Regions from separate parts of the Homo sapiens genome. Here region 1 is linked to region 2. Evidence: fine-mapped expression QTL. A gene starts in region 2. The other region holds a variant in brackets. All regions are shown on one strand. Distances are from middle to middle. Region 1 overlaps ZNF638 (zinc finger protein 638). Region 2 holds the start of ZNF638 (zinc finger protein 638).

The links. PIP is the estimated chance that this variant, and not a neighbour inherited with it, causes the effect.
Region 1: its variant is fine-mapped to the expression of ZNF638 in whole blood (INTERVAL, PIP above 0.99).

Annotation. Positions count from the first base shown.
Region 1 is chr2:71,366,761-71,372,141 of GRCh38, forward strand. It overlaps ZNF638 (zinc finger protein 638), which reads left to right. Exons shown (of 28, transcript NM_014497.5): 7 at 1,622-1,768; 8 at 3,123-3,245. Among named protein-coding and RNA genes, the nearest start is that of ZNF638, 38 kb to the left of the region's middle. The variant CA/C (reference allele first, on the strand shown) is at 2,562.
Region 2 is chr2:71,329,819-71,335,199 of GRCh38, forward strand. ZNF638 (zinc finger protein 638) reads left to right here and starts at 1,964. Exons shown (of 28, transcript NM_014497.5): 1 at 1,964-2,057. RefSeq lists enhancers at 1,557-2,244, 2,245-2,930 and a silencer at 1,764-1,973.

The DNA of each region.
Region 1 (5,381 bases), 37 kb after region 2:
ATACTCTGTTGTACAGTGTAAAATTTATACTTTGGTACTGATTTATTAGTGTTATTTTGACTGTAACCTACTGGTTACGATACTAAGGTATTGTTTTATTGTATGTGTTTATTAAATCACTATTAATATATTAAAACATCAAGAGACTATCTTCAGAGAAAATCCTAATAGGCCCAATATCAAATATTTTGTATATTTTAATATTAATAAGTCTTCAAGTATTTAGGTATGGAATGCATTGCTCTCAACAGTATTTAAATACATGAAAGACTTTCAGTAAGTGCTGTTCCCTGCCCCAAAGAACTTACATTTAGAAGGATAAACTTCTGATAATCAACCAGTAATTAACAGAATTTTGAAGAGCATTGGGAAGAAATTTTTGAGTATAGGGAAAATTTTGAAGAGGCTGAGTTAGTCTCATAATATGAAGTTCTTTTCATTTTGTTTCAAGACTTCTAGGTGGTGGCAGTGGAACTTTTTTTTTTTTAAGTTTTCTTATTTAGTAAAAAATAAGAGAAATGGGGGTCTCGCTTTCTCACCCAGGCTGGAGTGTAGTGGCACAGTCATAGCTCACTGCAGCCTCAAGTTCCTGAGCTCAAGTATCCTCCTGCCTCAGGCTCCCAGGTAGAAGACTACAGGTATGCGCCAACACACCCAGCTGGGTGTTTTAATTTTTTTTTTTTTTTTTTTTGAATCAGAGTCTCGCTCTGTCACCCAGGCTGGAGTGCAGTGGCGTGATCTTGGCTCACACAACCTCCGCCTCCCAGGTTCAAGTGATTCTCCTGCCTCCTGCCTTAGCCTCCTGAGCAGCTGGGATTATAGGCGTGTGCCACCACGCCTGGCTAATTTTTTTTATTTTTAGCAGAGACGGGGTTTCACCGTGTTGGTCAGGCTGGTCTCGAACACCTGACCTTGTGATCTATCCACCTTGGTCTCCCAAAGTGCTGGGATTACAGGCGTGAGCCACCAGGCCTGGCCTTTTTTTTTTTTTAAAAATATAGAGTCTTAGTATGTTGCCCATCCTGGTCTTAAACTCCTGGCCTCAAGCGATCTTTCTGCCTTGGCCTCCCAAAGCAGTGGGATACAGGCATGAGCCACCATGCCTGGCTGTAATTTTTAACGTAAGCGGTAAAGTTGATACTACAGTGTATTCAAATGGTATGCATTATATATGAATTTTTAAAAATATTATACCTGTCTAGAGATCATTTCCAATTATTAGAACAGAGGGGGTAAGCAAAGCTGTAATTTCAGCTTTACTTGTTGGTGGGCCATGTAGTTTCATAGAAAAATTCTCTCTAATGGCCTTGGAACATTCCATAGATCTTATTTGCTATAAGATGCTATCAACAGAAAAGAGCACCTGTAAACCATTTCTGGGTTAAAAAATATAAATAACATTTCTTACCACTTTTGCATTTAAAATCTTATTAAAGTGTTAAAATCGTGATTTAAAAATGCGTAAAGGAGGTGGTGAAGGAAAAAGAAAAATGGGTAAAAAATATGGAAAAGACCCTTTAGTGTACTAATATTAGTGGTAGAAGAAATTATATAGGAAATTATTACTGTACATTGTAGCTTAATTTGGTTTATTTTAAATTTTCTTTCACTCCAAAAATAGCTTCGGAAAGAACAGTCATTGCATTATGGTTCGGTTCTTCTTATAACTGAATTACCAGAGGATGGTTGTACTGAAGAAGATGTGAGAAAATTATTTCAACCATTTGGGAAAGTGAATGATGTCCTAATTGTTCCATATAGAAAAGAGGTGAGTCATTTAGTCTGTGGCAAAAATTCATACAAAGTGATTGCTTTAATGATTCTATAAATTGCTGTTGTGTTCCTTAGCTGCTTGTACTGCATATATAATTGTTCTTTGAGAGTTATATAAATGTCTGGATGTGAATAAGCAAGGCCGCAAAATAATGTTTTATATCCTTTAAAATAAGTGTTTGCCCACTTTTTCTGTAAAGGGCCAGCTAAATATTTTTGGTTTTATAAGCCATCTGTAGGATCTCAACTACTGTGCTCTGGCATTCTAGTACAAAAACAGCTATAAGTAATATGTAAATGCGCAAGCATGGCTGTGTCCAAAAAACTATTTACAAAAATAGGTAGTATGCCATAGTTTGCCAGTCATTACTTTAGAACACCAGTTAGATAATACTAAAACAAATTATTTCCTTTGTATGGTTAAGTATTTTCTGTGGGTTATATTCCTATAACTCACATGATAAAGTTAAGAACTGTGAACAGTTCTTCACATAAGCACAACATAAAATAGTTAGTTAAGGCTGGGCGTGTTGGCTTGTGCCTGTAATCGCAGCACTTTGGGAGGCTGAGGCAGGTGGATCGCCTGAGATCAGGAGTTTGAGACCAGCCCGACCAACATGGTGAAACCCCGTGTCTACTAAGAATACAAAAATTAGCCAGACATCTGTAATCCCACCTACGTGGGAGGTTGAGGCAGGAGAATCTCTTGAACCCGGGAGGCAGAGGTTGCAGTGACTAGAGATGGCGCCGCTGCACTCTAGCCTGGGCAACAGAGTAAGGCTCCGTCT[CA/C]AAAAAAAAAAAAAAAAAAAGTTTTGTGAGTTAAGGCTGGGTGTGGTGGCTGAAGTCTGTAATCCCAGTACTTTGGGAGGCCAAGGCTGGAGGATCGCTTGAGGCCAGGAGTTCAAGACCAGCCTGGGCAACATAGCAAGACCTCTGTCTTAATTTTTTTAAAAAGTTTGTGAGTCAGGACAGGGAACATAGTGATAGTGTTGTCTTTGTTGCAAGAAGCCTTTAAAATGTCAGACCTACCACAAGCTGGACCATATCTTCCCTTCCCTCCTGTTGTTCAGTGAGCCCTGCCTTCTCATTTCCTCTTCTTCCATGAGCCTGCCTGGATTTTTTTTTATCTTGGTAGTGGTATAGAAATTATGTAAGGTTAAATGTCCATTTAATGTGTGAAACATCCTTAATCAAATTATACTTGACCAAAATAAAAACAGGCAAAAGCAACCATGACTTGAGGTAGTTTCATAGTTTGATGTTACAAAAGAAAGGATTAAGCCCATTTTAAAATGCAGGAACTTTTAAAGATAGATTTGTGACTAAAGATGGAATAAATTTCATTTTAGGCTTACCTAGAAATGGAATTTAAAGAGGCAATTACTGCAATTATGAAGTACATTGAAACAACACCTCTTACGATAAAAGGAAAAAGTGTGAAAATATGTGTTCCAGGAAAGAAAAAAGCACAGGTAATCTGGATTTAGGTCTTAAATGTTTTATCACTGTTGTTTTAGTTTAACTTTTTTGTTTAAGTATGGCACACATATAGAAATAGGCATAGAAACATAAATGTTAGCTCAACACATTATATGTGCATTAATTCAAGTATGTTGAAATTAAAACTTCCTCATACATGTATGGTGCTATATACAGTATTAAATAACGACGACTAGGAGAAAATACTTGCCATATATAACACAAAAATAGCAAACATCTGTGAATCTGGTACCTAGGTCACAAAAGAGAACATTTGACAGTATCTGGAAGTCCCTTGCTTGCTTCTTCCCAATTCTTACACCCTCCCTTCTTCTCACAAGTAAACACTAACTTGATTTCTAATGCCATAGTTGAGTTTTGCCTGTTTTCAACTTTACATAAACAAAATCGTATAGTGTACATTCTTTGGGCCTTTACTTCCTTAGAAGTATCAAGTTTTGTAACTTTAATTTTTCTAGATCATTTCTGTGCTTCAGTTCATATGATCGTAGATAATATCTATAGAATTACTTTAAATTACCCTTTAAGGATGAGCTTTCTGTTAAGTAAAAAGCTATATGTATATCTCACCTGTAAGGTTTTCTTTGTGTATGTGTGTGTTTTTTAAAATAGGGTGTTGAGAAAATATTTTTATATCTTAAAAAAAATTATTGTATTTTTAATTTTTGTGGGTACATAGTAGGTATATATATTTATGAGGTACATGAGATGTTTAGATGCAGGCATGCAGTGTGTAATAATCACATTATGGAAAATGGGATATCTGTCCCCTCCAACATTTATTCTTTGTGTATCAAATAATCCAGTTATACTCTTATAATTGTTTAAAAATGTAACATTAAATTATTTTTTACTATAGTCACTCTGTTGCGCTAGCTAATACTGGGTCTTACTCATTCTGTTTTTTTTTGGTACCCATTAATTATCCCCTCCTCTACCCCCTGTTACCCTTCCCAGCCTCATAACCATCCTTCGACTTTCTGTCTCCATGAGTTCAGTTGTTTTAGAGCCCACAAATTGTGGGATTTTTTAGATACCACAAATAAGTGGGAACATGTGATCTTTGTCTTTCTGTGCCTGGCTTATTTCACTTAATATAATGACTTCCAGTTTCATCCATGTTATTTTAAATAACTGAATCTCATTCATTTTTATGGCTGAAGAGTACTCCATTGTGTTATGTACCACATTTTCTTTATCTATTCATGTGTTGATGGACACTTAGTTTGCTTCCAGATCTTAGCTAATGTGAACAGTGCTGCAAGAAACATGGGAGTACAGATACCTCTTCAATATACTGATTTCTTTTCTTTTGGGTATATATACCCAGCAGTGGGATTGCTGGATTGTATGGTTGATCCTATTTTTAGTTTCTTAGGACCCTTCAAAATGTTCTCCATAGTGATCGTACTAATTTACGTTCCCACCAACAATATACTGAGGGTTCCCTTTTCTCCACATCCTGGCCAGCATTTGTTTTTGCCTGTCTTTTGGATAAAAGCCATTTTAACCGGGGTAAGATGGTATCTCATTGTAGTTTTGATTTGCATTTCTGTGATGATCAGTGATGTTGAGTACCTTTTCGTGTGCCTTTTTGCCATTTATGTGTTGTCTTTTGAGAAATGTTTCTTCAGATCTTTTGCCCATTTTTTTTTTATCAGAGTATTAGTTTTTTTTTTTCCTGTAAAGTGGCTTGAGTTCCTTATATATTCTGGTTATTAATCCCTTGTCAGATTTTTTTCCTGTAAAGTGGCTTGAGTTCCTTATATATTCTGGTTATTAATCCCTTGTCAGATGGATAGTTTGCAATTATTTTCTCTCATTTTGTGGGTTGTCTGTTGTTTCCTTTGCTCTGCAGAAGCTTTTTAACTTGAAGTGGTCCCATTTGTTCATTTTTGTACAGCATTTGCCTGTGTTTGTGGGGTATTACTGAAGAAATATTTGCCCAGACTGATGTCCTGGAGAGAGAGTTCCTCCAGTGTTTTCTTGTAGTAGTTTCATAGTTAGAGATCTTAGATAAAAGTCTTTAATCTATTTTTATTTGATTTTTGTATATGGTGAGAGATAGGGTTCAGGTTCATTAATGCATATGGATATCCAGTTTTCCC
Region 2 (5,381 bases):
TTTTTTTTTTTGAGACAGAGTCTGACTCTGTCACCCAGGCTGGAGTGCAGTGGCGTGATCTCGGCTCACTGCAACCTCTGCCTCCTGGGTTCAAGTGATTCTCCTGCCTCAGCCTCCCGAGTAGCTGGGATTACAGGCGTGCACCACCACAGCCAGCTAATTTTTATATTTTTAGTAGAGATTGGGTTTCACCATGTTGGTCAGGCTGGTCTTGAACTCCTAACCTTGTGATTCACCTGCCTCAGCCTCCCAAAGTGCTGGGATTACAGGCATGAGCCACCTTGCCCTGCCTATTTTCTTACATATTTAGTGGAAGTGACACTTTGTAGAAACTTTTTGGGAAGTTTTTCTACAACACCTATTAAAATTAAATGTATGTACACACATATACATTTAATCTAGCATTCCCACTATGATGATTCTAGCCTTTAGAAATTAAAGCATAATTTGGTAAGTCTTTGTATACAGCAGTGTTTGCAGTAGCAAAAAGACTGGAAACAACTTCAGTGTTCAACAACAGGCTGAATAATTGCTGAGGCAGCTATACTATGAATATTATACAATTATTTAAAAAAGGATTATATGGTTTACTTGGAGAAATGTCAGTAATCAGAAAAGCAAATAGCTAATGTGTGAAAAAAGAAAACATTTCCTGTTACATGCAAATAATGTGTTTGTATGAATATAAAGAAATGTATGGAAGGAAACTTATCAAATGTTAACATGGGTTATTTGGTGTTTAGGGGGAGCTTGTTGGCTTTTTCTTTGTTGTTTTTGATTTGTTGTCCCTAGCAGGATTTTTGGTTTGAAATGAAAATCCGATAAGATATCTTTTTAAAACGACTTTTCTTTTTAGTCTTTCAAATGCTTGTTTTAATGTGAATAAAAGAAATGCATTTGCTTGAGTGCTAGGTAAAACCGATGTGTGAGACTCAGGGTGGGTGGTGTGATTTGTGTGGTATGCATACGGCAGGGCTTGTAGCTTTACCAGATTTTGAACAATGACTGGGTTTTCATATTGGTGTAGTACAGCCACCTCGAGAAGATAAAACATTGCATAACACAGTTCTTTAACGTCTGTCATCCCAAGGTTTTCCATGGGTAAAATGGAGATTACAAATATCTACCACACAGATAGGGCTTTTTATTGTGAAATGACAAAAGGATTTTCAGAGTGTTAAAGTTTTAGCTGAATAGCTTTGGTTGAATTCTACTTTACAGTTTTGAGTAGCTATGACACACATCATTGCCATAGGGATCAAAAGGTGCAAGGTGACAGGATAAAAGCAGGCAAAATCTTGACCATACAAAGCATTATATTAACGTGCTAGGCGCGAATATAACCTGTTATAATATAATGTTGTTATTATTATTTGAGATGGAGTCTCACTCTGTTGCCCAGGCTGGAGTGCAGTGGTGCAATCTTCCCTCACTGCAACCTCCGCCTCCCGGGTTCAAGCAATTCACCTGCCTCAGCACCCCCTAGTAGCTGGGACTACAGGCGCGCGCCACCGGCTATTTTTTGTGTTTTTAGTAACGGGGTTTCACCCTGTTGGCCGGGCTGGTCTCGAACTCCTGACCTCAGATGATCCACCCACCTCGGTCTCCCAAAGTGCTGGGATTACAGGCGTGAACCACCGCGCCTGGCCATATAATGTTATTATTGAAGGCACAAATGATCAGGGAAGACTTCATGAAGGAGGTGAGACAATATAGGTCTTAAAAGGATGAGCGGTTTGGAGAGGACAGGCACAGAACCAGCAAAAGAGTGAAGACGGCGCTGGAGTTTTTTTTTTTTTTTGCCGCACGCCTTCGCCGCCACCACGCGGGAGCGCCCCTTCCGGGAGCCCGCTCCGCCCGGCTCTTCTCGGGCTTCGGGCGAGCGCGGTGCCAGCGGTACGCAGGCGCCGGGAGCCTACGAGGGCTCGCAGGAGCTGGGAGGCGCGCATGCGTGCAGCTCTTTGGAGGCGGTAGCGTTTTCGGCGTCGAGACTGGAGGCTGAGTGCTAAACTGTGTGGGGCGCGGATGGGATCCAGCTGTTAGTCGGGTAGGCATAGGTAGGACCGCTGCCCTGTGGGGAGTAGGGGGTTGGAAGGCGGAGGCCGGTATCGTGGGGGTCCTGAGCCCTTCCTGTGAGATCCGGGCCGACTATTGTATCTGTGTCGCAGCGGCTCCGCACAAAATGGCGGCGGGCAGACGGCGGGGGCGGGAGGAGGTTGGGGGACCCCCGGGATGGGAAGGGAAGCTGTGCTGTGCTGCCCTGCTCCGTCGTTTATTCACTTCGCTACCCGGGAGGGCCCGTCCGGGTACTCGTGAAGGACCCTGCCTCGAGAAGAGCTGCCTGACGCCGTTGCACTGGGCCGAGGATCGTGAAGAGCCCTTTGGCGAGGCCGAGGCGGCCCCTTCCCCAGCAGCGCCCGGCCTGCCGAGGCTGCGCTGGGCCTGACAGCCGAGGAAGCGGTGGTGAGGGAATGCCGAGCAGGGAGGAAGCGTTCCCGTCGGGCCCGAAGAGGCGGTGGAGTTTGAGCCGAGCCCTCTGACCAGCGACATTGTGCAAGAAGCGTGGAGAGAAGAGCGTGTTTGTGTTTGGGGTTGGGGAGGGGGTGTCGGGATGAAGGAGGGAATGTTAGGATCCAGCGGCTTTTCCGGGCTGGTGTTCTGTGCTGCGTAGTGCAGGTATGAAACCAAAGAAAATATCACCTCTGTGGGAGACTGAGGACTCATAAATGGTTGTGATACCTAACAGTATTTCCAAATTTCTCAGAGGAATTGTGAAAACAGAACGTTAGTGAATTGTTTTTGTGTGATTCTTAGCTTGGGCCCCGTTCTCTTAAAGGAAGGGGGAATGTATATATCACAGACTGGAATCCTTGAGAACGTTTGAAATAGATCTTTTGTTGTTTGAGGTAATTGTTAATGAGGGATACTTCAGTATTACAAAATCATGGATTGAGCTATAGAGTGAAGGCTACCTGAAGCTAATTTTTCTTAATCTTAAAATTTGTCCTTAGGCGAAGTTTGGGGCCAGGACCAGAAATTGTAGTAGTTTAAAGGAGTCCCGATGAAAAACTTGTCACCAGGATCCAGCGATTTATGTTCAAGTACTTTTTCCAACGAGCTCTGGAATTTTGCACAAAAAATTTTCTGCTTTTTCCCCTCATTTGTTGTAAAGGATTATTTTTTCAGGGATGTTGTGCTTGCTGGTTCAGATTTACAATTAAAAATTGATAACCTGGAGAAAAGGATTGACCAAAAAAAGGTGAATTTAAGGAAGTTTTCGGAGAAAAACAAACATGTAAATGACATTCAAATAGCTTTAAATTTTGTTAATGATTAGACATTTGAGACTTAGTGGACTTATGTTGCTGTCTTTTAAAAAAGTTTGACAGCATTTTATATTTTATTTTGTACTCCATATTCTGTAATATGTACTTCTAAATAATTACAGGGCGTCCCAGCATGTTATACATTAAAATATGCTGGGCCATTCCTTCCTTGGGGATTTATTTGTCTTGGAACCAAGAAAGGGTAAATATAACAGTTGGAAGAAATCACAAAATCTTATTCGTTTTTATTAACTAGTTTTCATAATGTGTTTATGGTCACATATTTATTGTATATTGGTTGTATTTGTTTTGTAATCCTTTTTTGCATTTTGTTTTGGAGGGTGTATACGGCAGGTACTCTAGGTTAAAAAGGTTTAGGTACTGTAGTTTAAAAAAGTCATCACTTTGTACTTGACTATCTTAGGGTTTTTCTTGGGTGCTCTTAAGTAGGTGATCTCCGGAAATTTTGTTTTTATGTAAGTGGAAGAAAATGAGACAAGTAGTTTAGTGGAAAGAGAATAGGCTTTGCAGTCGGAAGATCTGGATTCACATCTCCCTTTTCCTCAGTATGTGTGAGACTTTGGTAAATTATTTTAGTCTTTCTTGAGCTTTTGTTTCCTTATCTCTAAAATGGTGACATTATTACTTCCTGCTTGGGATTTTTGTGAGTGACTGTTAAGTGAGACAGTGTATGGAAAGCTCGTATTCCTTGGCACATACTAGGTGCTTAATGTTAGCTGTTACTTGTATTTCAAAATTGAAGTGCTTAGGCAGCATTGTTTGATAGAAAATTATAATCTGTGGGTATTCTCTTCTAATTAAACGGCTTAAAAGGATTTAGAGTAATAGAATTTTGGAGTTGAAAGGCCCTCTAATCTAACTTTCATTAAAATATTTTGTGCTTCTATAAACTTTTTACATGCCTTTCTTGTAGAACTTATCAATATATATTGTAACCATTTATATGATTGTTACGTTAGTCTTTGTATCTTTCCCAGTGCCTGGTATGTATTAGATGCTCAGATGTTGAGTGAATGAACTCAGCTGGTAGTCACCAGAGCCTGGACTCTAAATCATGCTCTTTCCACTGTACCTTAATGTATACTGATTAAGGTTTGGACTAAATTTGTCCAAATCCTTAATAAAATGCCTTATATACTTAGAAACAGTACTTCCAGTATTGGTACCCAGTAACATAGCTTGGGCTGTTTTGCAAGGAAACAGGCGCTAATGAATGCTGCCATGTAGTGGTTTTAGAGACTCTCCAAATTGAAAGTAATTATGTTTGTGGCTAAAGCTAATAAGCCCTCATGTGTATCCAGCTTATCTACTCTTAATTGCTTTAACTTTGTTTAGTGTTTTGAAATTTGTGATGGAAAATTAAAATGGAAGGAAAATAAGTATATAGAAGATGAGAAGAGAATAATGGAAAGGAAAAAGAGTGAGGAAAAGGTGAGATGTAGAAATAAAACACACAACTGTAATAATGCGGGTGAGGGCCGGGTGCGGTGGCTCATGCCTGTAATCCCAGCACTTTGGGAGGCGAGGTGGGCGGATCAGGTCAGGAGATCTAGACCATCCTGGCTAACACGGTGAATCCCCATCTCTACTAAAAATAGAAAAAAAATTAGCCGGGCGTGGTGGCGGGCGCCTGTAGTCCCAGCGACTCGGGAGGCTGAGGCAGGAGAATGGCGTGAACCCGGGAGGTGGAGGTTGCAGTGAGCCGAGATTGCGCCACTGCACTCCAGCCTGGGCGACAGAGCTAGACTCCGTCTCCAAAAAAAAAAACAAAAAAAACTCCGGTGAGGGTTAAGAATAATAAGGGTTTTGGTTTGAAAAGAAAGTCCAGGGTTTTGGTTTGAAAAGAAAGTCCAGGAAACAGGAGAAATAGCTTTAACGTACATTATGTTTTTTTGCTTTGTTTTTGAGACAGGATCTCACTCTTTCTCTAAGGCCACCATGGTTCCCTGCGGCCTCTACCTCCTGGGTGCAAGCGATGTTCCTGCCTCAGTCTCCTGAGTAGTTGGGACAACAGGCACACGTCCCCACACTTGG